Linked DNA regions of Homo sapiens. The protein of the gene in region 1 purifies or fractionates together with the protein of each later gene. This does not show direct contact. Each region holds a gene or a part of one and is shown in the gene's direction. Other genes may lie near its edges. The genes, in order: CGAS, RAB3B, CLCN7, FAM111A, SULF1, RAI14 and NMNAT1.

Region 1 (2,543 bases):
AGTTGGGTTGTGTTGACGGCTAGGGATTGATTGGCCAAACTGAAAACAACACTAAGTGAGTAATTTTTTTTTTTGAGACAGACTTTCACTCTGTCACCCAGACTGGAGTGCAGTGGCACAATTACGGCTCACCACAGCCTCGATCTCCTGGGCTCAAGCAATCATCCTACCTCAGCCCCCCAAGTAGCTGAGATTACAGGTGCATGCCACCATGCTCGGCTAATTTAAAAAAAAATTTTGTAGAGGGCCTGTTGGCTCACACCTGTAATCCCAGCCTAGCAACATGGTGAGACCCCACCTCCATAAAAAATTTAAAAATTAGCCAGGCATGGTGACTGGTGCCTGTGGTCCCAGCTACTTGGAAGGCTGAGGTAGGAGAATGGCTCGAGCCCAGAAAATCAAGGCTGCAGTGAGCCATGATCGTGCCACTGCACTGCAACCTGGGTGACATAGTGACACCCTGTCTCAAAAAAAATTTTTTTTATTGGTAGAGATGGTGGTCTCCCTTTGTTGCCCAGGCAGGCTGGTCACCAACTCCTGGGTTCAAGTAAACTTCCCGCCTTGGCCTCCCAAAGTCTTGGAAGTACGGGGATGAGACACTGCACCCCACCATTTTTTTTTGTGATGGCATACACACCATAAAGAACTAAGATTGAAAAGGAATTGTTCATTTGAGTTTCTAAAGTTGGCCAGTATTGGCCAGGCATGGTGGCTCAAGGCCTGCAATCCCAGCACTTTGGGAGGCCAGGGCAGGTGGATCACCTGAGGTCAGGAATTCGAGACCAGCCTGGCCTACGTGGCGAAACCCCGTCTCTACTAAAAATACAAAAATTAGCTGGGCGCAGTGGCACGTGCCTGTAATCCCCGCTACTCAGGAGGCTGAGGCAAGAGAATCACCTGAACCCGGGAGACAGAGGTTGCAATAAGCTGAGATCATGCCACTGCACTCCAGCCTGGGCAACAGAGCAAGACTCCATCTTAAATAAATAAATAAATAAATAAATAAATAAATAAATAAAGTAAGTTGGCCAGTATAAAGATCACAAAAGTTAAAAAGTCAAAACAAAAATGCCCAACATGCAGGCACAGAGGTTCTTTAAGATCTCATATGCAGGCTTTGAAGTAAGCATTAAGAAAACTATATTGTTGGCCAGGCACAGTGGCTCACGCCTGTAATCCCAGCACTTTGGGAGGCCGAGGCAGGTAGATCACCTGAGGTCAGGAGTTCGAGACCAGCCTGGCCAACGTTATGAAACCCCGTCTCTACAAAAATGCAAAAATTAGCCGGGCGAGGTGGCATGCACCTGTAATCCCAGCTACTTAGGAGGTTGAGGCAGGAGAATCGCTTGAACCCAGTAGGCAGAGGTTGCGGTGAGCTGAGATCACACCACTGCACTCCAGCCTGGGCAACAGAGCGAGACTCCATCTCAAAAAAAAAGGAAAAAGAAAAAAAAAAAGAAATATTGTTGATAAGGCTAAATAGTTTCATAAATAGTACATTTTGTCAACTACTAAATAACTAGATGAGATGGCAGATTATCTATGGTACTCTTAATAATGTAAATAATTCTGTGATACAATCAGTGGATTTTAGAAAAGAAAAAATTTATATTAAATTTGCAGTTCAATAAAGTAAAATAATTTTATAACAAAACAAGATTTTGGATCGCTTGAGGGGGGTGAGGGGAGGGTCAGAGGTTGCAGTGAGCCGAGATTGTATCACTGCATCCCAGCCTGGGTGACAGAGTGAGACCCTGTCTCAAAAAAAAAAAAAATAGTATAAATATCTGTTAGCTTTATACAGTTGAAGAAATTCATAGAATATATTTAAGCTAAGAATGGGAAAGAGAGGGAAAAAATGTGTTTTTGAAACTTCAAACCATATATTTGAAAACATAATCAGATTTTAGTGTGACTGTTGTATTTATTTTATTTTATTTTATTTTATCATTTCATTTCATTTCATTTATTTCATTTTATTTTATTATTTTATTTTATTTTATTTTATTTTATTTTGAGATGGAGTCTCACTTGTTGCCCAGGCTGGAGTGCAGTGGCATGATCTTGGCTCACTGCAACCTCTGCCTCCTGGGTTCAAGTGATTCTCCTGCCTCAGCCTCCCGAGTAGCTGGGATTATAGGTGCACGCCACCACACCTGGCTAATTTTTGTATTTTTAGTAGAGATGGGGTTTCAGCATACTGGCCAGGCTGATCTCGAACTCTTGACCTCGTGATCCGCCTGCCTAGGCCTCCCAAAGTGCTGGGATTACAGGCATGAGCCACCGCGCCCGGCTTTTTTGTTTTTGTTTTTGTTTTCTGTGTGTGACAGAGTTTCGTTCTTGTTGCCCAGGCTGGAGTGCAATGACGCGATCTTGGCTCACTGCAACCTCCGCCTCCTGGCTTCAAGCGATTCTCGTGCCTCAGCCTGCAGAGTAGCTGGGATTACAGGCGTGCGCCACCACGCCCAGCTAATTTTGTATTTTTAGTAGAGACGGGGTTTCACCATATTAGTCAGGCTGGACTCAAACTCTTGATCTTAGGT
Region 2 (3,500 bases), on another chromosome or scaffold:
GTATAACCCACATTACCTATAATTTTCCCAACAACACTTGTTTTATGAATGAGGAAACTGTCTTAATCATGTAACATTTCTTGCCAAGGTCTCATAGGTAATAAATGATAGACCTGGAAACTGAATCTAGTTTGTTTGATTTGGAGCTCCAAACTATTTCCACTACACAGGATGACTTGCTAGAAGAAACCATGAAGCACAGAGACAAACAAACAAACAAAATAAGGGGTTAATAAAACACCCTCCCATATACAGGTTTTAATTCTTGCAACAGTTTTGCCAGGAAGCCATTTTATGAGCTCCTTTTATAGATAAGGAAACTGAGGCCAGGGGTGTGATTTGCCTAAGTTTACAGGATCACTGAAAGAGCCAGGGCTTATCTTTCAAATGCCAGGTCTCTTGGACTCAGTCTCATGTTCTTTGCAACAAAAGGTAAGTTCCTTCATTCACTTCTTCACTCCATTTATTGAGCTGATCTCTTCTCGCTGGATTTTAGGGCTCTCTCCTCCTCCTCCCCGCTCTTTCCTGGCTGAAGTTGGCTTCTTCCTTAGGTGCTTATTTCTGCCGCCTATCAGACTGAAAGGGTTGTTTTTCACAGCCACCCTTTGAGGAGTCATTTCTTTCCCCCAGCCTGGGACAGGGACGACTTCCCAGATGGTCCCTGGGCCTTCATCTGTATTGCTTGTCACGGAGATAGCTCTATCATTTTATGTGACTGTCACAAAATAGAGGAAAGATTTGATTGATGCTTATCTTACAAATGCAATTCTGCATGCACCACTGTGCATGACCTGTCTGCTTAGATCTGCCTCAGGCAGCTGCCTGCTGGGATGCTTTTTGCCTGTCTTCCAAATGTCTGAGTAGCCCCTGGCCGCCCCCTCCTAAGAAGATCCCCTTGGGGGCTTCCATCTGAATGAGCCTTCCAACTGAACTCAGCTCTCTGCCTCTCCCCGTTCTCACACCACCTACTGGGAAAGCCATGCTGTGTGTGCATAAGCAGATGTTAACAGTGTGGTATGGCAAGTACAGTACGGTAGCAGGACACTCAGGATGTTGGGTATGCTTCTTTTTTTTAATTTTTATTTTTAGAGATAGGGTCTCACTCTGTCACCCAGGTTGGGATACAGTGGTGCAATCATAGCTCACTCTAACCTCGAACCTCTGGACTCAAGTGATTTTCCAGCCTCAGCCTCCCAAGTACCGAGGACTACAGGTGCACACCACCACATCCGACTAATTTAAACTTTTTTTGGCTGGGCGCGGTGGCTCACGCCTGTAATCCCAGCACTTTGGGAGGCCGAGGCAGGCGGATCACAAGGTCAGGAGACCGAGACCATCCTGGCTAACACGGTGAAACCCCATCTCTAGTAAAAATACAAAAAATTAGCCGGGTATGGTGGCGGGTGTCTGTAGTCCCAGCTACTCGGGAGGCTGAGGCAGGAGAATGGCGTGAACCCGGGAGGCGGAGCTTGCAGTGAGCTGAGATCGCGCCACTGCCCTCCAGCCTGGGCGACAGAGTGAGACTCTGCCTCAAAAAAAAAAAAAAAAAAAAAATTCGTAGAAATGGAATCTCACTATGTTTCCCAGGCTGGTTTTGAACTCCTGGCCTCAAGTGATTTTCCCATTTTGGCATCCCAAAGTGTTGGGATTACAGGCATGAGCCACCATGCCCAGCCAGGATGCTTCTTTATTCACCCTAAAATTGTTGTGGTTTTCGTTTTCCTTAATCCCGTCAAACCTGGAAGCCATTAGGTAACAGAAGTTCCATTCATGACCCTCCAACTGACTTGCTGTGTGAGCTTGGACAAATCACTTGTCTTTGCAGAGCCTCAATTTTTTTTTTTTTTTTTTACCTGTAAGATAAACGGAGGTAGATCAGGAACTGAAACAATTTTTTACTCTTGCCATCACTTCCTAGTCTCCTATCTGTGGCAGTCACAGCTAATAAAGGCAGGCAAATTTCTCACTGATTCTACACGAGGCTACATGTATTTTTCTCAGCACAGTGTATGAAACATACTTATATACGTTCTCTTATTTAAAATTCACAGCACCTCGTGAAGTAAGTATTATTGTCAGATGAGGACACTGAGGCATAGAATTTAAGTAACTAGGCCAAGTTTACACACTGAGTTACTGGGAAAGCTGGGCCCAGTAGCCAGGCTTTTTGTTACAATAAAAAGCTGCTACTCCAAAGTCCCCTCTAATTCTAGCAGTTTAAGAGTGTGAAGCTGGGCTACATCAGAAAAGTGAAAACCAGTAATCTGACATTTACACTGATAGTCTGGCACTTGAAAAATGCTCTATATGTGTTTCTTGAAAGACATAACACCCTCTAAGGATTTACTGTAGGTCTAGCGTTGACCAGATGTAAGGATGGATAAAGCCCCCTTGAATCCAGAAGAGAGAGCAAACAGTTAATTGTAAAACAGGCCCAAATAATGGAGCCACAATCAGGGAGAGGGCAGTTGAACAAGATTTGCCTGCAGAAGTGAATTAAAGGGGCCAGTGAAATAATATGTATTCAGTACCTCCATGGGCCGAGAAACTGTGTCAGATTGTTTACGTATAGTACTACTCTTTCTATTTGTACCAAGCTCTGTGAAGTAGGTGGTATTTTCTCTATTTTAAGGTAAAAGTGCTGTGGCTTAGAGAGGCAATATGACTTACCTAAGAATTCATCTGAGGGTAGAGCATTGATTTTAAACTTTTTCATAACACTGCAGGGTACTAAGTCTAGTCTCGGCTGTTAGCTATGAGATTTGGGCAAATCCTTTTAATTTCTCATTTTCAGTTTCCTTCTTGATCAAATGGAAATAATAATCCACGTCTTTCCAGCTTTATTTCCCAGGTTTATTTAGAGATAAAAGAAGATAAAGGATATGAAATTGTGGTAAAGATCACATTTATGTTTTAGTAGTGACTCTTTGACCAGCAATTCCACTTCAAGGAATCTCTCTCAAGGAAGTAATTAGGAAAATGTACAAAAATTTATGTAAAGAAATGTTCACTGCAGTTTCATGTATAATAATTAAGAGTAGAAAAACAACTTAAAAACAACTTCCTAAAGAGAGTGACAACATTAAATAATTGATCTGGCTGGGCCAACATGGTGAAACCCCATCTCTATTAAAAATACAAAAATTAGCCGGTGTGATGGTGAGCACCTGTAGTCCCAGCTACTTGGGAGGCTGAGGCAGGAGAATCGCTTGAACCCAGGAGTTGGAGGTTGCAGTGAGCCAAGATTGTGCCATTGCACTCCAGCCAGGGTGACAGAGCAAGACTCTGTCTCAAAAAAAAAAAAAAAAAAAAAGAATTGGTCTTATGACACATCTATAGGATGGAATATAATGTAGTCAACTGAAATGATGTTTTTTTAGAGTTTTCAAAGTCTCGTTCATGCTTTTTTTTTTTTTTTTTTTTTTTTTTTTTTTTTTAATTAGAGAGTCTCCACTGTTGCCTGGGCTGGAGTGCAGTGGCACAATCTCCGCTCACTGTAA
Region 3 (3,500 bases), on another chromosome or scaffold:
ATGGGCAGCGAGGGGGCTGGACCTGGCTTTGGGACAGGGCAAGGACAGGGATCTTGGGGGGGCAGTGAGGAGCCCCAGGAGAGTGAGAGGGGGCCGGATGCCTCTGACTTCAGAGGGCAGGGGTTTAGATGTTCCCGTGCCAGTGGCTGCCCTGGGAGTCCTGAGCTCAGCGGCAGCGTGCTCGTCTTCCTTCCCCTCGGGGGCATCTCCCGCCGGCCTCGGTTTTTCCCCCAGCCGCTGGTGAGGCCGGGAGTCCTCTGCTGCCGCTGGCCGTTCACTCATCGTCTCTGGGTAGATGTCTGTGCGGGACTCCTGTTGAGATGATCCTGATGTTGGCAACACCCCGGGCGTCCTCCTTCTCCCCATCAGGCCCCACCTGGCTCTGCCCTGGGCCACGTCAGAGGCTGAGGCATCTCACAGTCCACCTGTCCGGGTGCTCTTCGGCCTTGCGTCCGTTTGAGCTCTGCCGCAGTCGCTCCCGAGGCCGGCGCCGTGCTCAGATGCCGTCCTGTACAGCCAGCAGCGCCTCTTCCGGGGCTGCCCTTCTGATACGTTTGTGCTGCCTCTGGAGCCACAAGGCCTTCGGAAGATCTGTTTCGTGGCCGTGGGCGCCTTCGGCACTGCCTTTTTGGACTTCAAAGCCTTTGCTCTGGTGTCAGCTTTGGGAGGGGCAGGAGTTGGGAGAGAAGGGAAAAAGCCAGCACGTGAGATTCAGCAATCAGTCCTCTCCTGTCTCAACCCTGGAGCGGGTGCCTGGCCGGCCACACGCGTGTTGGTTATGCTCATTTTTAAACTGGGTTTGTTGTCTTTATAATTGAGCTGCAGGAGTTCTTTATACATAGATGCAAATCTCTCATCCAATACATGATTTATAGAAGTTTTCTCCCGTTCAGTGGGTTTTCTGTTCACTTTCTCAGTGGTGTCTTTTGTTGCTCAAATTTATTTAATTAAAAAAGTTTTGGCCAAGGGAGGTGATTCGTGCCTGTAATCCTAGTACTTTGGGAAGCAGATGGATTCATTGAGCTCAGGAGTTCAAGATCAGCCTGATCAACATGGTGAAACCCTGTCTCTACAAAAAATATAAATATTAGCTGGGCCTGGTGATAGGCACCAGTAGTCCCAGCTACTTGGGAGGCTGAGGTTGGAGGATCACTTGAGCCCAGGAGGTGGAGGTTTCAGTGAGCTGAGATGGTGCCACTGCACTTCAGCCTGGGTGACAGAGTGAGATCCTGCCTCAAATTTTTTTTTTTTTTTCTGGGCAGGTGTGGTGGTTCACACCTGTAATCCCAACACTTTGGGAAACCAAGGCTGCAGCCCAGGATTTGGAGATCAGCCTAGACAACACAGTGAGACCCTGTCTCTACAAAAAACAAAAACAAAAACGAAAATTAGCCAGGTGTGGTGGTGTGCGCCTGTGGTCCCAGCTACTCAGGACGCTGAGGCAGGTGGATTGATCGAACCCAGGAGGTTGAGGCTGCAGTGAGCCATGATCACACCATTGTACTTCAGCCTGCGTGACAGACGGGACCCTGTCTAAAAAAATTAATTATTACTATTCTTTGAGATGAGGTCTCACTGTGTGGCCCAGGCTGAACTCCATCTCTCAGGCTCAAGCAATCCTCCCGTTTCAGCTTCTTCCTGAGGAGCTGGGACCACAGGTGCATCACACCCCGCACAGGTTGTATTGCTGAGGTTCAGCTAATCTGTTTTTTCTTGTGTTGCTTGTACTTTTGGTGTCAAATCTAAGAAACCATTGCCTCACCCAAGAGTATGACGACTGACCCGTTTTTTCCTAAGAATTTTACAGTTTTAGGTCTTTCATCCCTTTTGAGTTAATTTTTGGATGTGGTGTGAGGTAAGGGTCCAACGTCATACCCTCCCTCTCTCTCTCTCTTTTTTTGAGACAGGGTCTCACTGTCACCCAGGCTGGAGTGCAGTGGTGCAATCATGGTTCACTGCAGCCTCTGCCTCCTGTCTGTCTCCCAAGTAGCTGGGACTCAGGCGCATGTCACCATACTCAGCTAATATTTTGTAGAGATGGAGTCTTACTATGTTGCCCAGGCTGATCACAAACTCCTGGCCTCAAGCAGTCCTTCTGCCTCTGCCTCCCAGAGTGCTGGGATTATAGCTGTCAGCCATTGCGCCCGGCCCAGCTTCATTTTTGCATGTGGAAATCCAGTTGTACCAGCACCATTTGTTGAAAACACTACCTTTCTCTGTTGAAATGTTTTGACACTGTTGTGGGAAATCAATTGATCGTACATGTTTTGGATTTCTTTCTGGACTCTCTCAATTCTCTTCCATTCTTTTGTGGCCATCTTCATGCCAGTACCATGCCTGGTTTTTTTTTTTTTTTTTTTTTTGGCTTTTTTTTAAGAGTTGGGGTCTCACTGTGTTGCCCAGGCTGGGTGGATCACTTGAGGCCAAGAGTTTGAGACCAGCCTGGCCAACATGGTGAAACCCCGTCTCTACTAAAGATACAAAAATTAGCCAGGCGTGGTGGTGCACACCTGTAATCCCAGCTACTTGGGAGGCTGAGGCAGGAGAATGGCTTTAACCTGGAAGGCGGAGGTTGCAGTGAGTTGAGATCGCGTCACTGCACTCTAGCCTGGGCAAAAAGAGTGACTGTATCTCAAAAAAAAAAAAAAAAAAAAAAAAAAAAAGACAGATGAGGGTTTTACTCTGTTGCCCAGGCTGGTCTTGAACTCCTGGCTTCAGTTGATCCTCTTGCCTCTGCCTCCCAGAGTGCTGGGATTACAGGTGTGAGCCACCGCACCCGGCCTCATGGATTGATTTTTGGATGTTAAACTAACTTGTATTCCTAGGCTGAATTCACCTTGCTCCTGGCATTGCTGGAATCACTTTGCTTGTGTCTTACCAAAGATCTTTGCATCCGTGGTTGTAGGGGTGTTGGTCTGTAGTTCTCTTTTTTTTTTTTTTCTTTGAGACGGAGTCTTGCTCTGTCACCCAGGCTGGAGTGCAACGGCGCAATCTCGGCTCACTGCAACCTCTGCATCCCGGGTTCAAGCGATTCTCCTGCCTCAGCCTCCTGAGTAGCTGGGATTACAGGCGCCCACCACCACGCCCAGCTAATTTTTGTATTTTTAGTAGCGACAGGGTTTCATCTTGTTGTCCAGGCTGGTCTCGAACTCCTGACCGCAGCTGGTCCACTTGCCTCGGCCTCCCAAAGTGCTGGGATTGTAGGTGTCAGCCACCGCGCCCCATGTGCAGTTCTCTTGCTGTGTCCTTGTCCTTGGTGTCGGGATGATAATGGCCTCGTGTGTGAGCTGAGAGGGGCCTCTCTCCTTGTGGCCTTGTCAACTGTGCTTCTCTCTTTGCCTTTTTCTGCCACAGGATATGGACCCTCCACATCCCTTCCCCAAGGAGATCCCACACAACGAGAAGCTCCTGTCCCTCAAGTATGAGGTGGGCGTCCTTCTGTCCCCCTGACCCTGAGACCCGGCCTCTGCCCCCTGCCAGCCCACTCCCGGTCCCCTGTG
Region 4 (4,013 bases), on another chromosome or scaffold:
TGTTAAGCCTATTGTCCTTTAATCACTATTTGCTTACACATTAAAATGTAAAACAGGCAAAAGAGAAAGAAGGAAGAAAGGAGGGAGGGAGGGAAGGAGAAAAGTGAGAAAGAAAGAAAGATAAAAGAAAAAAGAAAGAAGAAAGAAAGAAAGAGAAGAAATAAAGAGAAAAAAGAAAGGAAGAAAGGAAGGAAGGAATGAAGAAGAAAAGAAAAAAGAGAAAGAAAGAAGGAAAGAAAAAGAAAAAAAGAAAGAGAAAGAAAGAAAGAAAGAGAAAGAAAGAAAGAGAGAGAGAGAGAGAAAGAGAGAGAAAAGAAAATTTTCTCCAGATTAGAATTATTGGCTGCTATTGTTTGGATGCTGGGTACTAGCTGTGATTACCCTTTGTGAATGTAGGAATGCACAGATTCCAAAAGTGAGTCTCATAGAAAAAGTCAGCATTCAAATATGTTTTAAGGTTACTCTATCCAAACCCCAAAGAACCCACAGAAGATGAAGCAGTAATTTTAGCTTCTCTTGGTGTATTGTACATGCATTTAAGGCCAGTTCCTTCCTTCAAATTCCCATGTGTTTTGTAGTTACCAACACACCTTTCAACCCTATCTGTTTATATACATCATATAGTCCTCTGTCAATTGCATAAAAGTTGTCCCCTTTGTGACTGTAATCGCCTTTTCCAATACACATCTACTCAGAATGCAGGTCCTTAAACAGCAGGCTGCCTTGAAAACCCTCTCCAATCTTCTTCGATCATCAGCTTTGAGATGCATATTCCTAGAGCCCATATCATCTTCTTCATCACTATCATAAACGTCTCCACATATTGATGAACGTTTGGAGAATCGATTTATGACAAGGGAGTTTACTCTTCCTGCATCCGCGGCTTCTTCGTGATTTTGTCCTAGTCACCGGGCCTATCCCACCTGCTGGGGATGCCGCCCCCTCGGAAGTGCCTGAAATCTCCCCACTTACCCAACTAGCCTCAGCGCCTCCTGTGTGCTGCAGCAGATGGCGCGCTGCAGACCCCAGCCTGGTGCCTCCGCGACTCCTCCCCAACCATGATTTACAGGCGGGGACAGCCACATTCCTGCGCCCCAACTTCCACCTCCGCTTCCTGCGCGCGCGAGACTCAAGCTGCCACAGTGGCTCTGCCGCCAGCGTCCCAGCTCCTCCCACACCCGAGTTTTTATTTCCTGCTCCCTCTCCAGCCCGGCCCAGGCCAGCCTACCGGCGACTAGGATGCTTTCGCTTTCGCTCTCGCTTTCCAATACTCGGGACTGGGGAAACCGGGAGAATAGAAGCAGGCAAGGACCGCCGTGGGCACGGGGTCAGTGAGACAGGGTCCTGCTCGCGGCGTCAAGGAGGAGCGCTGTGGGTGGGTAGGGTAGGCGCGCCCCCTCGGCCTTGCCTTTCCAACCACTCTTTTTTGCACGCCAACAGGTGTCCCCAGCGCAGCCAATCGGCTTCCGAAGTAGGTGAGTTGCTGCCTGAAGAGAAAAGACAAACTCCAGTATCTTTCATTCCATTGGCCAGACGCGCCATTCCCCAAGTGAGTTCTGTTCTCCAACCAAAGTGCTGGATTCCAAGGGACTGGAAGGGAAAGTCCCTAAAAATCACGAGTTCAGGCGTCTGAGACTTGGTGGGAACGGACCTTCCTCTTAGGTGAGTTACTCTTTGGTTCTGGGGCTGACCTGGAGTTTTGCCAGGATTCATTGGCCGCAGCAGGATGCTGGTGGGGACAGGGTAAATAAAATCTGCACTCCTGCGGGCTTTTATTGTTGAAAGGGGCACTGACGCTCTCCCTGGAAACTTAAAAAGAACAGCCAAGTGAACGGATGTGTCTTTCTTTTGCAGTGCCCAAGCCTGTTCTAATTTTTAAAAACTGATGTCTATTAAGACCCAATGTTAACTTTATGAAAATGGTTCCTAAGGAGATTCACATCTCTGTGTCCGAATTCTGTGTGCAGCAAACATCATCTCAAGTGCGTTTTCCCAACTACGCTTCTTTCCAGGATAAAATACTCTAAGTGACAAATGTTGAGTACATTATCAGGTATGTTCACTATTGTGAGAACTGAAGCCATCTACACTCACATAGCTTGCCAACTACATTAACCTGACTTCTTATTCCATTATTTTCATCAACATACATTTACTATTTCAAGAAACTTTTGCCAGGGACCGGAAAGTTGCAAATATCTTTATTGCTTAATCCAGTATCTTCTTCAAAGATCCAACCACTCTTCAATGGAAAACATCAAAGAACAGTTTACATTCTAAGACTTTGAACCTTTACCTCAAAATCCTAGCCTTGTTTTATCTACCAATCCTAAACTTTTACCCGTAGCTGACTCAATTCTAACCAATTCCCCTCATTAAATATTAGACTTACAATGGGACTTCAAAATCTCAATACATATAGCCCAAACTTGCTCTTCCCTCTCTGAGACACCACTTAAATTCTGTCAAGTTATTGTTCTCCATTACCTAAGTGAGCAAGAAACTTAGCTTTGTCTTATCAACAGGTTGCTTTGATATTACTGGGAGCCAACATTTGACATTCTTGGAGGCTCCAGCAAGACCTAATCAACCTCCCAACCCTCAACTCAGAATCAGTGTGTGCCCTGAAGTCCCTTCAACCTTCTTGAGGCTCTCCCTGATCTCAAAGGTGGAGAAAGTAGATCTTGCATCAGGTTGAACTCCAGTTTCTTTTTGCTCAGTTTTTCAAGCGCTGAGTTTATTTTGTCCCTAGGCATAAAGAAATCTTTCTAGGAACCCCTTTGGTTATGGGACCAGATTTTTAAAAGCTTTTTAGGCTTGGTGAAAAATCTGCCTTATCACTAGCAACACTACGACTTGTCTCTGTTCTTGTTTTTTGTTGTACTCGTGTAAAAGAAAAGTTCAAGGGAAGAGAACAGGCTCAAGTCTACTTCTCACGCTGGCTCTGGGGATTAGGAAATTCAGAAAGTTTTGTTTCAGACTGGCAGTGCTGTCTGATATAAACACAGCGTCAAGTACTGCACGCTGTAGCTACCTGAGGTTTAGGCCGGAAGAGGCACGGCTGATTTAAAAGTGAAAGAAAGTAACCAATTGGTTCGCAGACAACCTTTTCCCAAAAGGCGGGCGATTCAAACCCCTAGCCCCACCTGCTCCGTTTCCCGCCCAGCTGGAGCTCTGGAGCCTTTGCTTCCTCAAATACGAGCGGGAACTGCGTTGAGCGCTGGATTCCAGGCCGAGTGCTGGCGAGGCGCGCAGTGAGTGAGCACACAGGGCGCTGGGGTGCTCCGCGGGGCGCGGTCACGGGCGCGGCCGCGGCGGGCTCGAGTCCCGGCTGGGAGGAGAAGGAGCTGGGTGTCAGGAAGCCGGGGACTGACAGCGCCACCCATCTGGGGAGCCGGGAGGACACAGGTTTTATTTTGGTAGTGCTGCAAGTCCCCTTGTGTGCTGGGGGGAGCGGGGCGGCGTGGTAGGATTGGAAGAGGCTTAGAGTTGGCCTCGACCCCTGCCCTTGCCCCTGGAAAGGCAGAAAGTGGGGGTTGGGGTGCGGAGAAGCAGGAAGAGAGGGAGAGTGAAGGAGGGGAGGAAAGGGAGAGAGGAAGAGGGAGAGTGAAGGAGGGGAGGAAAGGGAGAGAGGCAGAGAGGGGGAAGGAGAGAGGGAAGGAAGGAGAGATTGAGAGACAGAGAAATTCCTAAGGGGAGCTGTCAGGTGGGCTGGACATGGGCCCCAGGCTGCACTGCTTTATCCCTTTGCTGTAGGAAGTCAAGCAAGTTCTTTAGGTAAGTAGAACCTTGATGTCAAGTATAAAACAGGGGTTGGTATAGGATAGCTAAGAGCACTTTATATTTTGATATAATCTGATTTATCCTGGATACTGAAAACAATGTAGGGAGACGGAGGATATTGGAGTGTTTTCTTAACCTCTTGCCCCTTTCCACTGTGATTGCTCAAGTACATGCAAAATTAATGTTTCTTTCTGCCCATTTTATTTTCCTTTTTTTGTCTGTGTCTATTA
Region 5 (3,500 bases), on another chromosome or scaffold:
TTTTCCTTGTGTGCCTTTCCTAGTTTTAAATAGATAAATGTATGCCATTGTAATTATTTCCATTGTCACTTCTGGGTTTCCCCTTTTGGTTCATTAATACCCATTGCCTTGTTTTTCTCTGTACATAAATTAGGAGAGAGAAAATATTTGTATAATTTTTTTAACAAAAGGAACTTTGAGCATGTAAAATGAAACATGTATGCCCAAATTTTGAAATTAATGCTTTTGGGAAGAACGAATCTTTTCCTGACCTCTCATCTTCATCCTACCCAGTTTGTCATTTTCATAAAGGACCCATCAAATGTTGAACTCCTGTAGACAGAGCTTTAACATCTATTTCTTGCTGTTTAAAGAATGTGGAGTCATGTGACAGGGTAAAAAAAAAAAGGGGGCAGGACTCAGGGACCGTAATTCAGATCACTTCTCATGTACGAAGCTTTTCCCTTTTTGTCGAAGCAAATTTCTACGTAAGAAGGAAGAATCCAGCAAGAATATCCAACAGTCAAATCACTTGCCCAAATATGAACGGGTCAAAGAACTATGCCAGCAGGCCAGGTACCAGACAGCCTGTGAACAACCGGGGCAGGTGAGTGACGCAGGCTTTCTTTACCACCACTCATGTGCTTCTCCATCTCTAATTTAGAAAATTGTCCACATATAAAAGAATGTACATTTGTGTATAAATAAGCTTTTCCTAGTGGCCTTGAGGGCAAGCTCACTGAGACACCTCTCCGCGGACAGAATTACGTAACTGGTTCAGGCTGGGCCTCCCCATTACTACTTGGGCTCCCTCCAGTTAAAAAAGATGATGATCTCAGAGAAAGTTCTATGCCAAAAGACACTGGTTTCCTCTGAGGAGAAGATTCCTGTTATAGTCCCTGTTAACTAGTCACTGAAGAGTTGCCAAAAGGCTACTTAGTCAAAGCACAGGTACGTGCTGAGCCTCTTGGCAGTGAACCACCCCAAGAGACATGATAGGGCCTTCACCCTAGGCTAAAGTCAGAATGTCATCTTACCCCCAGTAGAGGACAGAGCCTGTGACCAAGCTTGAGGAATGAGAAGAGAAACCATATTCTGTTTGTTTATTGTTCCTACTTCTGCTCACAAAGATTCTGGCATCAAATATTTCATTAGAATAGATCCTCTTCGTTAGTAGAAATATTACTATAGACCCCAGAGCTACCCAGAATACCAGTTATTATCAGTAAGAATAAAAGAAATACTGTGTGATGAATTAACATTGCTTTTAAAGAAAGTGAGTACGTATGAATTTAAACCAGTTTAAAACCATTGATTTTAAATGCCCTTGATTGAAATGTATGCTAGCTAAAAGAAAATGCTGTGTCATGACAAGAGGAACTGAACTTTGGCCCAAATCATTGCAGCTGAGAACAAAATCAGAGGAAAGTGAAAAATACTAACACATAGTGAGCATTTGTCTTACATCAGGCACAGTACGCAGGATTTTGTAGCATTTACTCAATTTAATCCTCACAACTGTAGAGTGAGGTGGGCATTGGCATCTCCATTTTACAAATGGGCAGCTGGGATTCAAACAGGAGTTGTCTGATTCAATAACTCAGGCCACTTGCTGCCTTCCAAGGTAAGTTACAATAACCAGGTGAAGAGAAGTTCAAATCTGTGAGTCTTTTTTAACTTAACTGACCTCTAGATATCCACACAATTCACCAACACCAGTTCAAGATGTCAGGCTCATGGAATGAGTAGGTAACAAAGTTATTATTAAAATGGCCTCACTCATTATACGCTTATTATATGGTATCTAGCTTGTTGAATAGACATTCCTAATAAACAACTTGATCCTTATACCCTGCATTTCCTCATGCTTTCTTGTACACAGGATCCCTTTGAAATAGAAGAGGATAGGGAGGGAGAGCTGTTGAAGGAAGGGCTAAAACTAAGCCTTCACTACATTCTAGTACATCTTAATTTTCAAGTGTTTAGTGGAGAAAAGCTGAGACCTATTCATTATATTTTAATTTGAAGTCTTCAAATCTTTCTTATGAAACCTCCAAATATTATTATGAATAAAACCTCAGAATTGTTTTGTAGCTCTAAGATGATTTTTATGAGCTAGCCTCAATAGACTAATTTACTTTTATTCAGGAGTTGCAAATGTTCAGTGTTAAATATATCTCATGCAAATTGGTGATCTTGTTACTCTTTTAGCTCTAAGAGGTGAACATTATAGCCTTTTGGGAATAAGGTACACTGCCTACATTTCAGTGTGTAATTTTACAAACCTCTCCATATGGCTTGCCCTAAAATTTTAATATATGTCCTAAAGGGCAAATGTAGCATAAACCAGATTATGGTACTTTGGCACAAGCTTTTCACTCACGAGCTGAATGCTAACTAAGTTACAAACTTAATTTTGCTTTTTCATATTTTTTGAACTTGTTTTGGCCCCATGAAATGCTTTCATATCTGGAATTTTCTTCCACTGTTTCATTTCGCTGTGAATCAGTCTGAATTTAGATCCATTATGTGGATATATGAGAACGTCAGCAATGGTCTCTTTTAGAAAGGCCTGAATTCGTGGAACAAAGAATTAGGCTATGCCCTGATGGTGATTTCTTTCTATAGAATTTCTTTATATTGGGCCTGAGTGAGCTTTAGAAGTGAAGACCTGGAGAGTATTTCAGATTGTCTCTAGCTTCAGTGTATCCACAGCACTAGTGAATTGTTACTCTAATCCCGAACCAGCAGGATCAGCATCCCTGAGAGTTTGTCAGAAATGCAAATTCTCTGGCTATTGCAGACCTTCTGAATCAGAACCCCTAGGGGTGAAGCCCAGCAATCTGTGTGTTAACAAGTCCTCCAGGTGACTCTGATGCTCCCTAAAGTTTGAGAAGCACTATTCTAACCCACGATTGTGTTTACTGGTGGCCCTCAAACCATAGCTTAGGAATCTAAGAACTTCAAGAAAATTTTGAGCCTTAATCTTTAAAGCAGTTATTGAATCTGTGGGTCAAACCTGATAGCTGTGTTGTGTGTTGTTGTTTTGTTTTCTTTGGGACAGGGTTTTACTCTGTCACCCAGGCTGGAGTGCAGTGGCGTGATCATGGCCCACTGCAGCCTCGCCCTCCTGGGCTCAGGTTATCCTCCTACCTCAGCCTCCTGAGTAGCTAGGACTACAGGCACACACCACCATGCTCGACTAATTTTTGTGCTTTTTTAGAGATGGGGTTTTGCCATGTTGCCCAGGCTGATCTGGAACTCCAGGACTCAAGTGATCCACCCACCTTGACCTCCCAAAGTGCTGGGATTACAGGAGCGAGCCTCCATGCCCAGGCAGCTCTGTTGTGTTCTATCGACTTTTTATATCTTGGCCTTTTGCTCTTTCTTTCTGGCTACTTTGAAGATTATCTGTTTTTGGCGACAGTATCCCTGACTTTAAAAAAGGAAGAAGAAAATTCAGAATAATGACACTGAATTGTTCAGGTTCGAGGTGGCAGCGGAGGCTAGAACTGACCTGC
Region 6 (3,500 bases), on another chromosome or scaffold:
AATCAATTCTCCTGCCTCAGCCTCCTGAGTAGCTGGGACTGCAGGTACATGCCACCATGCCCGGCTGATTTTTGTATTTTTAGTAGAGATGGGGTTTCATGTTGGCCATGGCTGGCCAGGCTGGTCTCGAACTCCTGACCTCAAGTGATCCACCTGCCTTGGCCTCCCAAAGTGCTGGGATTACAGGTGTGAGCCACCATGCCCAGTTTAAAGATATTTCTTCCCTTTGTAGTTAGTCATGAGCTGAAAAGTACAGGTGGTTCAACAAAAGATAAAAATTGTTCATCAAATGTCAATTTTCTAGCTCCAGCCATCTACAATGAACAAAAAAATTAGCCTCGTCTTTGACATCAGGCCCACTGAGAGATATCAGCAAATCTAATCAGTATTTTAAAAAGTAACTTTTGGCCAGGCATGGTGGTTCACACCTGTAATTCTAGCACTTTGAGAAGCTGAGGCAGGAAGATCACTTAAGCCCAGGAGTTAAGAGACCAGCTTGGGAAACATGGCGAAACTTTGTCTCTAAAAAAATACAAAAATTAGTTGGGCATGGTGGTGCATTCCTGTAGTCCCAGCTACTCAGGAGGCTGAGGTGGGAGGATCACCTCAACCCATGAGATCGAGGGTTGCAGTGAGCCAAAATCTTACCACTACACTCCAGCATGGGCAACAGAGTGAGACCCTGTCTAAAAAAATAAATAAATACAAATAAAAAGTAACTTTACTGACTTAACCATGTGTTTAAAAACAAAGCAGTACCTTCTTCTGTTTAACTGAAGGAAGCATGCCTTGTTCTTCAATTTTATATTCTATGTGTCCAGTAGAGTATCTGCCACACAGTAGGAGATTAACATCTCTCAACTACTCCTGCCTCAGAGGTCATTAAGCCCCTCATGGCGGTCATCAGATATAGAGTTGTCCTAGTCTAGAGGAGAATTAAACAATAATCAAAAGGCAGAAATCAGCAACAAAGTGCGAAGTCGAAGTTCAGAAGATGTGAAAGAAACACTTTTCCTCCTTATCCACTCTTTGCGGAAGTTTGTGCATTGTGTCTTGATTGATTCACCAGCTGGGTTTTTGTGATCAGTGTCACCTCATCTAACCTTACTTGCGATCTAGGCCAGTCCCTTCTGTAGTGAATGGCATTCACTGGAAATTAGTCTTGCCGTATAATTCCATGACCATATGTCACACCGGGGCAAGGGGACACCTTTGGGAAGTTCTTCATGATTTGCTAATCCCTGCTTCTAAATAAGCAGAATCTAGTTGTGAGAAAAGGTGGTTGTAGTCCAAGAAGCTTACTGTACAGTGGAAGGAAATACATGGGCTCTTTTTTTTTCTTTCCTTATTTATTTATTTATTTTCTTAAATTGACATTTAGGCCAGGCACAGTGGCTGCTGCCTGTAATCCAAGCCCTTTGAGAGGCTGAGGAGGGCAGACCACTTGAGCTCAGGAGTTCAAGACCAGTCTGGGCAACATGGCACAAAACCCCATATCTACTTTAAAAAAAAAAAGTATATTTATATTGCAGTGAGCCAAGATCACACCACTGCACTCCAGCCTGGGTGACAGCGAGACACTGTCTCAAAAAAAAAAAAAAAAGGAAAGAAAAAAATTGACATTTAGTGAACACCAAAGCTTATTATCAAGGAACCAGTTTCCCTTACACTTATTTATTATATTACCTTTTAAAGCTCAACTTAATTTTTCATATCCATTTTAGGTATTGTTATCGATAAGATATTCTGTTTTCTTATGATCTAGATAAGTTCAATTTGCTTAATTAATTTATTTATTAAATTTTTTATTTCCATGGGTTATTGGGGAACTGGGTGTTTGGTTACATGAGTAAGTTCTTTAGTGGTGATTTGTGAGATTTTGGTGTACCCATCACCTGAGCAGTATACGCTGCATCCTATTTGTAGTCTTTTATCCCTCACTCCCTTCCCACCCTTTCCTCCTGAGTCCCCAAAGTCCATTTTGTCATTCTTATGCCTTTGCATCCTCATAGCTTAGCTCCTACTTATGGGTAGGAATGTACGATGTTTGGCTTTCCATTCCTGAGTTACTTCACTTAGAATAATAATCTCCAATCTCATCCAGGTCACTGTGAATGCTATTAGTTCACTCCTTTTTATGGCTAAGTAGTATCCATCATATATATATATATATGTGTATATATATATATATGTGTATATATATATGTATATATATGTGTATATATATGTGTATATATATGTGTATATATATGTGTATATATATGTGTATATATATGTGTATATATATGTGTATATATGTATGTGTATATATATACACATATATATGTGTGTGTATATATATATATACACACATATATATATGTATATATATACACACACCACAGTTTCTTTATCCACTCATTGATTGATGGGTATTTGGGTTGGTTCCACGTTTTTGCAATCAGTTTGCTTAATTTAGCTGTTCTTTTCAAAGAGATAATAACTCTAAAACTAACAAGCAGCATCTACCTCTTTTCACTTTCACTAAGTCTGTCCAGTTCCTTTTGCTGGCTGAAGTGATAGACACTCAGAAAACAGGCAGTGTTAACTGATGGAGAATAAAAGGCCAGAGAAGCCTCCTTTTGCACTAGGGCAGCACAGAGTAAAGTGTTTTCCATTTTTTTTTCTTTTTTTTTTTTTTTCTCTAAGAGGAATCCATTTGCAAACCAGAGAAAACCATCCAGCAGTGATTCTTAAATATTCGTGAGGCATAGATGGACACTTGCAAATCTGATGGGGGTTTTGGACCATTCTTCCTTGGAGAAACTGATGTATGTACAATGATGCTATAAATTCATAATTTTTATCAGTCTCATGAGTTTCATGGAACTCCTTGCCCTAAGGCCATTTATAAACCTCCTTGGAATACCCAGGTTAAGAACCCACAATGACCACCTCTCAAAGTTTGAGAATACAATTACAAGGGCTCTATTTTTCTATCATGTGCCGCTATTCCCCACCCCACTGCCACCCACAGTTCGAAAACCTATCATACATGAGTGAAAAGTAATAATTGTGGGTTTTATACTCTCAATTTGAAAACTAGTCATCGGTTGCTATGTCAACCAGTCAACATACTATTGACCATTTTTAGGATCTATTTCTATTGGATGTAATAAAATGCAATTTATATGCAATGAAAAGGTGGTTTTGTAATATGACTATTTCACAGAGACCTGATGAATTCTAAGGATGAGTCTTAAGTTTCTCACCCCAAGGAGTTGGGTCTGTTCTGTCTTCAGCTTTTGGTGGCAGCAGTTTCCCAGTTTTGCTGTTAACAGGAAGGAATGGAGATGTCCCAGGCCCCACCTGACAATTCTTGTAGTCTCACAGGAGATGTCCTGCGCCCCACTTGACAATACTCCTAGGCTCACAGTAGGTGTCCCAGGCAACCCCTGACAGTACTCCTAGGCTCACAGATGTCCCGGCCCCCCGACAGTACTCCTAGTCTCACAGTAGGT
Region 7 (4,289 bases), on another chromosome or scaffold:
GGCTCACTGCAACCTCAGCCTCCTGGGTTCAAGCAATTCTCCTGCCTCAGCCTCTCCAGTAGCTGGGACTACAGGCATGCGTCACCACATCTGGCTAATTTTTGTATTTTTAGTAGAGATGGGGTTTCACCATGTTGTCCAGGCGAGTCTTGAACTCCTGACCTCTGGTGATCCACTTGCCTCAGTCTCCCAAAGTGATGGGATTACAGGCGTGAGTCACCGCGCCCAGCTCAAATCTTATTCTCTATTTAGCACTTATTTCTGCCTTTAATTATATATGATTTTATTATAATACGTTATCTCCTCTGACTAAACTCTGGAGAACAGAATATGAGTCTGATTCCTCTCTCAGCTTTCTCAGTACCTAATACAGAATAGAACGTCGATAATTTGGTCACGTATATAAAGGCTCAACATATTTTAAGGAGCTAAAGCTATTCTGAATACATTTCAGTAAAAATGGGTGCATTTTAAAAGCCTTAACCTGGTACTACATTAGTTGAGATTTATCCCCGAAAGATTAACTCGTTGGCACCACCTAGTAGTCACTAAATGTGGTGCACTTTTCACTTTTACGAAACTACAGAAACCGCTCTCAGACACTATATCTGGAGCGGAGGGTCCTCATTCATGCTCACCTGTCTCTTAGTACTCTGATCTCTGCACAGTGCCGACCGGTCTCAAATTGCACAAACCTCCAGTTCTTGACGTTCCGAGTGTCATAAACTTGAGGAAAATGAAATTATTCATCAGGACTACAAAAGGCTCAAAGTTCAAACCACCTCGGGGTGGAGATGCTGGAAAAAAGGAAACCATTAACAAGTAATTTTATTTGCTATATATAAACTTGCCCTAAGGCAGTCCAGATAACTTCCACTTGAGCAGCCTGAGACATCAAGGGCGGGGGCACTTTCCCCCTCGACTGCGCCTACCGCAGCCTTTCTGAGTTTCTTCCTAGCGAGGCCGAGAGGGTCTTTGAGGAAAATCCCGCATCCGGACACGCCTTGAGGGATGGCGTCAAACCCAGAGGCTTGGAAAAGGTAAGGGCGGAGAGCACGCCTCTTCCTTGAAAGTGAGGAGGGTTTGGCCCAGAACCAACAGGACTGGGTGAAGAATCAGCTCCGGCCACCGCAGCAAATCCCACCCCACGCGGGAACTTGAAGTCCGGCACGTAGGTCCCGCGGCGGCCGGGCTCCAACAGGCCCCAATTGCCACCAGAGGTAGCCGTAAACCCATGGTCCCCGAAACTCCTTCCGGGCCTACCTGACAAAAACTGGGACAACCTCCTTAGGCCCCCGGGATTCCCCCTGTGCCGCCTGACCGCCCGCCAGTCCCAGAGTTTAGGGCCAGGGGCCCCGCCTACCTGAGGGCACTGGCCTGGCGGACCGCGCCGGGGGAGCACTTCCGCTGGACGCACGCACTTCCGGCCCCCTGGAACCAATGAGAGTGCGACCGAGATGTTCCACTCGCTGGCGTCCGGGCCGCTGGTGATCTCCGGTAGCACTCGGGCCGGCGGACAGTGAGGGCGCGGTAAGCTCCCCGCAAGGAGCCCCTGAGAAACTGGTCGCTTTTTGTCCTAGATATAGGGGAGTCCAGGATGGTGTGGTGGAGTCTTTAGAGTCGAATATGACCCGAGGCAAGCTCATATTCAGGTTTGGGGCAAGGAGCTTTGATTGACCCTTAATTTTTTCAGTGGAACGGAAAACTTCGGTAAAATAGCTTCTGACCTTCGGAACAGATGGATTCACCTTGGAAAGGAAAAATCTCTTTCTAGAAGAGTCTTGAGGTCTGGCACCTTTAGGCTTAACGGGGGACGGCTGGGCGTCAGAGGAGGAAATCCTTCATTCCGAACGACTTCCCTTTCCTCCTAAATCCTTCTTTCCAAATCTGTAAAAGACTACATCTACTTTGCTGGAGGTGGTTTGACACTCATGCTCCTTGAGAAGGAGGTAATGAGCTGTAGGGCAGCTCTTAAAAAGTTACCCTTGGACGGGCGCGGTGGCTCACGCCTGTAATCCCAGCACTTTGGGAGGCCGAGGCAGGCGGATCACGAGGTCAGGAGTTCGAGACCAGCCTGGCCAACATAGTGAAACCCCGTCTCTACTAAAAATACAAAAAATTAGCTGGGCGTGGTGGTGGGCGCCTGTAATCTCAGCTACTCGGGAGGCTGAGGCAGGAGAATCGCTTGAATCCTGGAGGCGGAGGTTACAGTGAGCCGAGATCGCGCCATTGCACTCCAGCCGGGGCGACAGTTCGAGACTCCATCTCAAAAATAAAAATAAAAAAAAGTTACCCTTGGCTGTCGCGGTGTGACACCTGTAAACCCAGCACTTTGAGAGCCCGCGGTGGGAGGATCATTTGAGCCCAGGCTGGGCAACATAGCAAGACCCTCATAACAAAAAATTAAAAATAAAATTACCCAGAAACTGGTTGGAACTATTTAATGATGTTCTTAGTCCATCTTCCTGAAGTAGTCCACAGAACAACATCAGTGTTCATGGTAGAATTGTTTCATCAGGGCAGTTTTTTTTTAAGTAACAATGTCTTGTTAAAAAACAAGAGCTGTGTTGCCCAGGCTGGAGTGCAGTGGTGTGATCATAGCTCACTGCAGCCTTGAACTCCTGGGCTCAAGCGATCCTCTGGCCTTGGCCCCTCAAAGTGTTGTGGTGATTGGCACAAGCCACCGACAGGCCTGGAGTCTGAAGTTAGTTATATTTCAGCTACCCAGGATAAACTTCTAACTATGATTACCACAGAACTCTACCAAAACTAATTGTTTCACTTAGTTCTGTCTGATTATGGAATCTCTTTATTACCATCAGTTGTTTTTCAGAGTTACAATTTGAATATGAAACCATTTTTCTAGCCCACCTTAGAGAAGACTGTTGACACACTAGTTGAAATGGTTGCAATAGCCTCTACCTTGCAAGACACTTCAGATTCAAAGAATTTCCTTTGCAAAAGTCGGCCGGGTGCAGTGGCTCATGCCTGTAATCCCAGCACTTTGGGAGGCCAAGGCGGGCAGATCACTTAAGGTCAGGAATTCAAAACCAGCCCGGCCAACATGGTGAAACCCCATCTCTACTAAAAATACAAAAATTAACCAGGCGTGGTGGTCCATGCCTGTAATCTTAGCTACTCAGGAGGCTGAGGCATGAGAATCGCTTGAACTCAGGAGGTGAATGCTGCAGTGAGCCAAGATCACGACGCTGCACTGCAGCCTGGGTGACAGAGCAACTCCGTCTTAAAAAAACAAAACAAAACAAAACAAAAGAAGAAAAAAATAAAAGTACCTATTAATGCAATTATCTTTCAATTTTGATTCATAAATATGTGTGGAAGTGTCAATGTTTTGGGTAAAATGGAATTCACAGTGACAGAGTCAGTGCCATACAAAACAAAACTGGAAAATATACTTTAAAAAAATTATTTGAGCTGGGTGTAGTGGCTCACACCTGTAATCCCAGGACTTTGGGAAGCCGAGGTGGGCGGATCACGAGGTCAGGAGTTTGAGACCAGCCTGGCCCCTATGGTGAAACCCTGTCTCTACTAAAAATACAAAAAATTAGCTGTGCATGGTGGCGTATGCCTGTAGTTCCAGCTACTCGGGAGGCTGAGGCAGGAGAATTGCTTGAACCCGGCAGGCGGAGGTTGCAGTGAGCCGAGATCGTGCTCTTCAGCCTGGGCTACAGGGTGAGACTCGGTCTCAAAAAAATAATAATAATAATTTGAAAAATTTGCTGAATAAACATTTGTTCACAGTGTACTTTCCCTGATTTTTTAATTTTTGTTTTTGTTTGCCCTGTCACCCAGACTGGAGTACAGTGACACGAGCACGGCTCACTGCAGCCTTAATCTCTCAGGCTCAAGTGATCCTTGCACCTCAGCCTCCCTAGTAGCTGGGACTTCAGGTGCATGCCACCACATCCGGCTAGTTTTTGTATTTTTTGTAGAGATGAGGTTTTGTCATGTTGCCCAGGCTGGTTTCAAACTCCTGGGCTCAAGTAATCCTCCCACCTTGGCCCCGCAAAGTGCCGGAATTACAGGCATGAGCCACCCCACCCAGCCTTCCCCTAATTTTGATAATGATAATCCAATGTTCTGTTCTGGCATTTGTGTAGTTTTAGCGTGTGCAGTCTTCGAAGCAGTGGAGGTATTTGCCTTTTCTTCTCTGTGACTTAGTCATTCAGCAGTTCTATGCTAAGGGTTTTTTTATATGCCTTTAGGTTCTTGTTTAGAGTTAATGGATAATGAAAACATTTCTAATGCATAAGAGAAATGCATTCTGA

Evidence for each region.
Region 2: the proteins of CGAS (region 1) and RAB3B purify together in Homo sapiens (affinity purification with mass spectrometry, with the first as the bait; one large-scale study listed by BioGRID). This does not show direct contact.
Region 3: the proteins of CGAS (region 1) and CLCN7 purify together in Homo sapiens (affinity purification with mass spectrometry, with the first as the bait; one large-scale study listed by BioGRID). This does not show direct contact.
Region 4: the proteins of CGAS (region 1) and FAM111A purify together in Homo sapiens (affinity purification with mass spectrometry, with the first as the bait; one large-scale study listed by BioGRID). This does not show direct contact.
Region 5: the proteins of CGAS (region 1) and SULF1 purify together in Homo sapiens (affinity purification with mass spectrometry, with the first as the bait; one large-scale study listed by BioGRID). This does not show direct contact.
Region 6: the proteins of CGAS (region 1) and RAI14 purify together in Homo sapiens (affinity purification with mass spectrometry, with the first as the bait; one large-scale study listed by BioGRID). This does not show direct contact.
Region 7: the proteins of CGAS (region 1) and NMNAT1 purify together in Homo sapiens (affinity purification with mass spectrometry, with the first as the bait; one large-scale study listed by BioGRID). This does not show direct contact.

What each region holds. Positions count from the first base shown.
Region 1 is NC_000006.12:73,425,755-73,428,297, reverse strand, and holds part of CGAS (cyclic GMP-AMP synthase), read left to right. Parts: intron 1-2,543. UniProt on the Homo sapiens protein: Nucleotidyltransferase that catalyzes the formation of cyclic GMP-AMP (2',3'-cGAMP) from ATP and GTP and plays a key role in innate immunity.
Region 2 is NC_000001.11:51,984,201-51,987,700, reverse strand, and holds part of RAB3B (ras-related protein Rab-3B), read left to right. Parts: intron 1-3,500. UniProt on the Homo sapiens protein: The small GTPases Rab are key regulators of intracellular membrane trafficking, from the formation of transport vesicles to their fusion with membranes.
Region 3 is NC_000016.10:1,461,529-1,465,028, reverse strand, and holds part of CLCN7 (H(+)/Cl(-) exchange transporter 7), read left to right. Parts: intron 1-3,354; coding exon 3,355-3,426; intron 3,427-3,500. UniProt on the Homo sapiens protein: Slowly voltage-gated channel mediating the exchange of chloride ions against protons. Functions as antiporter and contributes to the acidification of the lysosome lumen and may be involved in maintaining lysosomal pH.
Region 4 is NC_000011.10:59,141,643-59,145,655, forward strand, and holds the start of FAM111A (serine protease FAM111A), read left to right. Parts: upstream 1-1,213; 5' UTR 1,214-1,304; exon of another isoform or gene 1,305-1,327; intron 1,328-1,440; 5' UTR 1,441-1,662; exon of another isoform or gene 1,663-1,854; 5' UTR 1,855-2,053; exon of another isoform or gene 2,054-4,013. UniProt on the Homo sapiens protein: Single-stranded DNA-binding serine protease that mediates the proteolytic cleavage of covalent DNA-protein cross-links (DPCs) during DNA synthesis, thereby playing a key role in maintaining genomic integrity.
Region 5 is NC_000008.11:69,604,347-69,607,846, forward strand, and holds part of SULF1 (extracellular sulfatase Sulf-1 isoform 1 precursor), read left to right. Parts: intron 1-456; coding exon 457-586; intron 587-3,500. UniProt on the Homo sapiens protein: Exhibits arylsulfatase activity and highly specific endoglucosamine-6-sulfatase activity. It can remove sulfate from the C-6 position of glucosamine within specific subregions of intact heparin.
Region 6 is NC_000005.10:34,662,828-34,666,327, forward strand, and holds part of RAI14 (ankycorbin), read left to right. Parts: intron 1-3,500. UniProt on the Homo sapiens protein: Plays a role in actin regulation at the ectoplasmic specialization, a type of cell junction specific to testis. Important for establishment of sperm polarity and normal spermatid adhesion.
Region 7 is NC_000001.11:9,941,986-9,946,274, forward strand, and holds the start of NMNAT1 (nicotinamide/nicotinic acid mononucleotide adenylyltransferase 1), read left to right. Parts: upstream 1-1,489; 5' UTR 1,490-1,530; exon of another isoform or gene 1,531-1,786; intron 1,787-4,027; exon of another isoform or gene 4,028-4,289. Other genes in the region: protein LZIC, read right to left, coding at 696-750.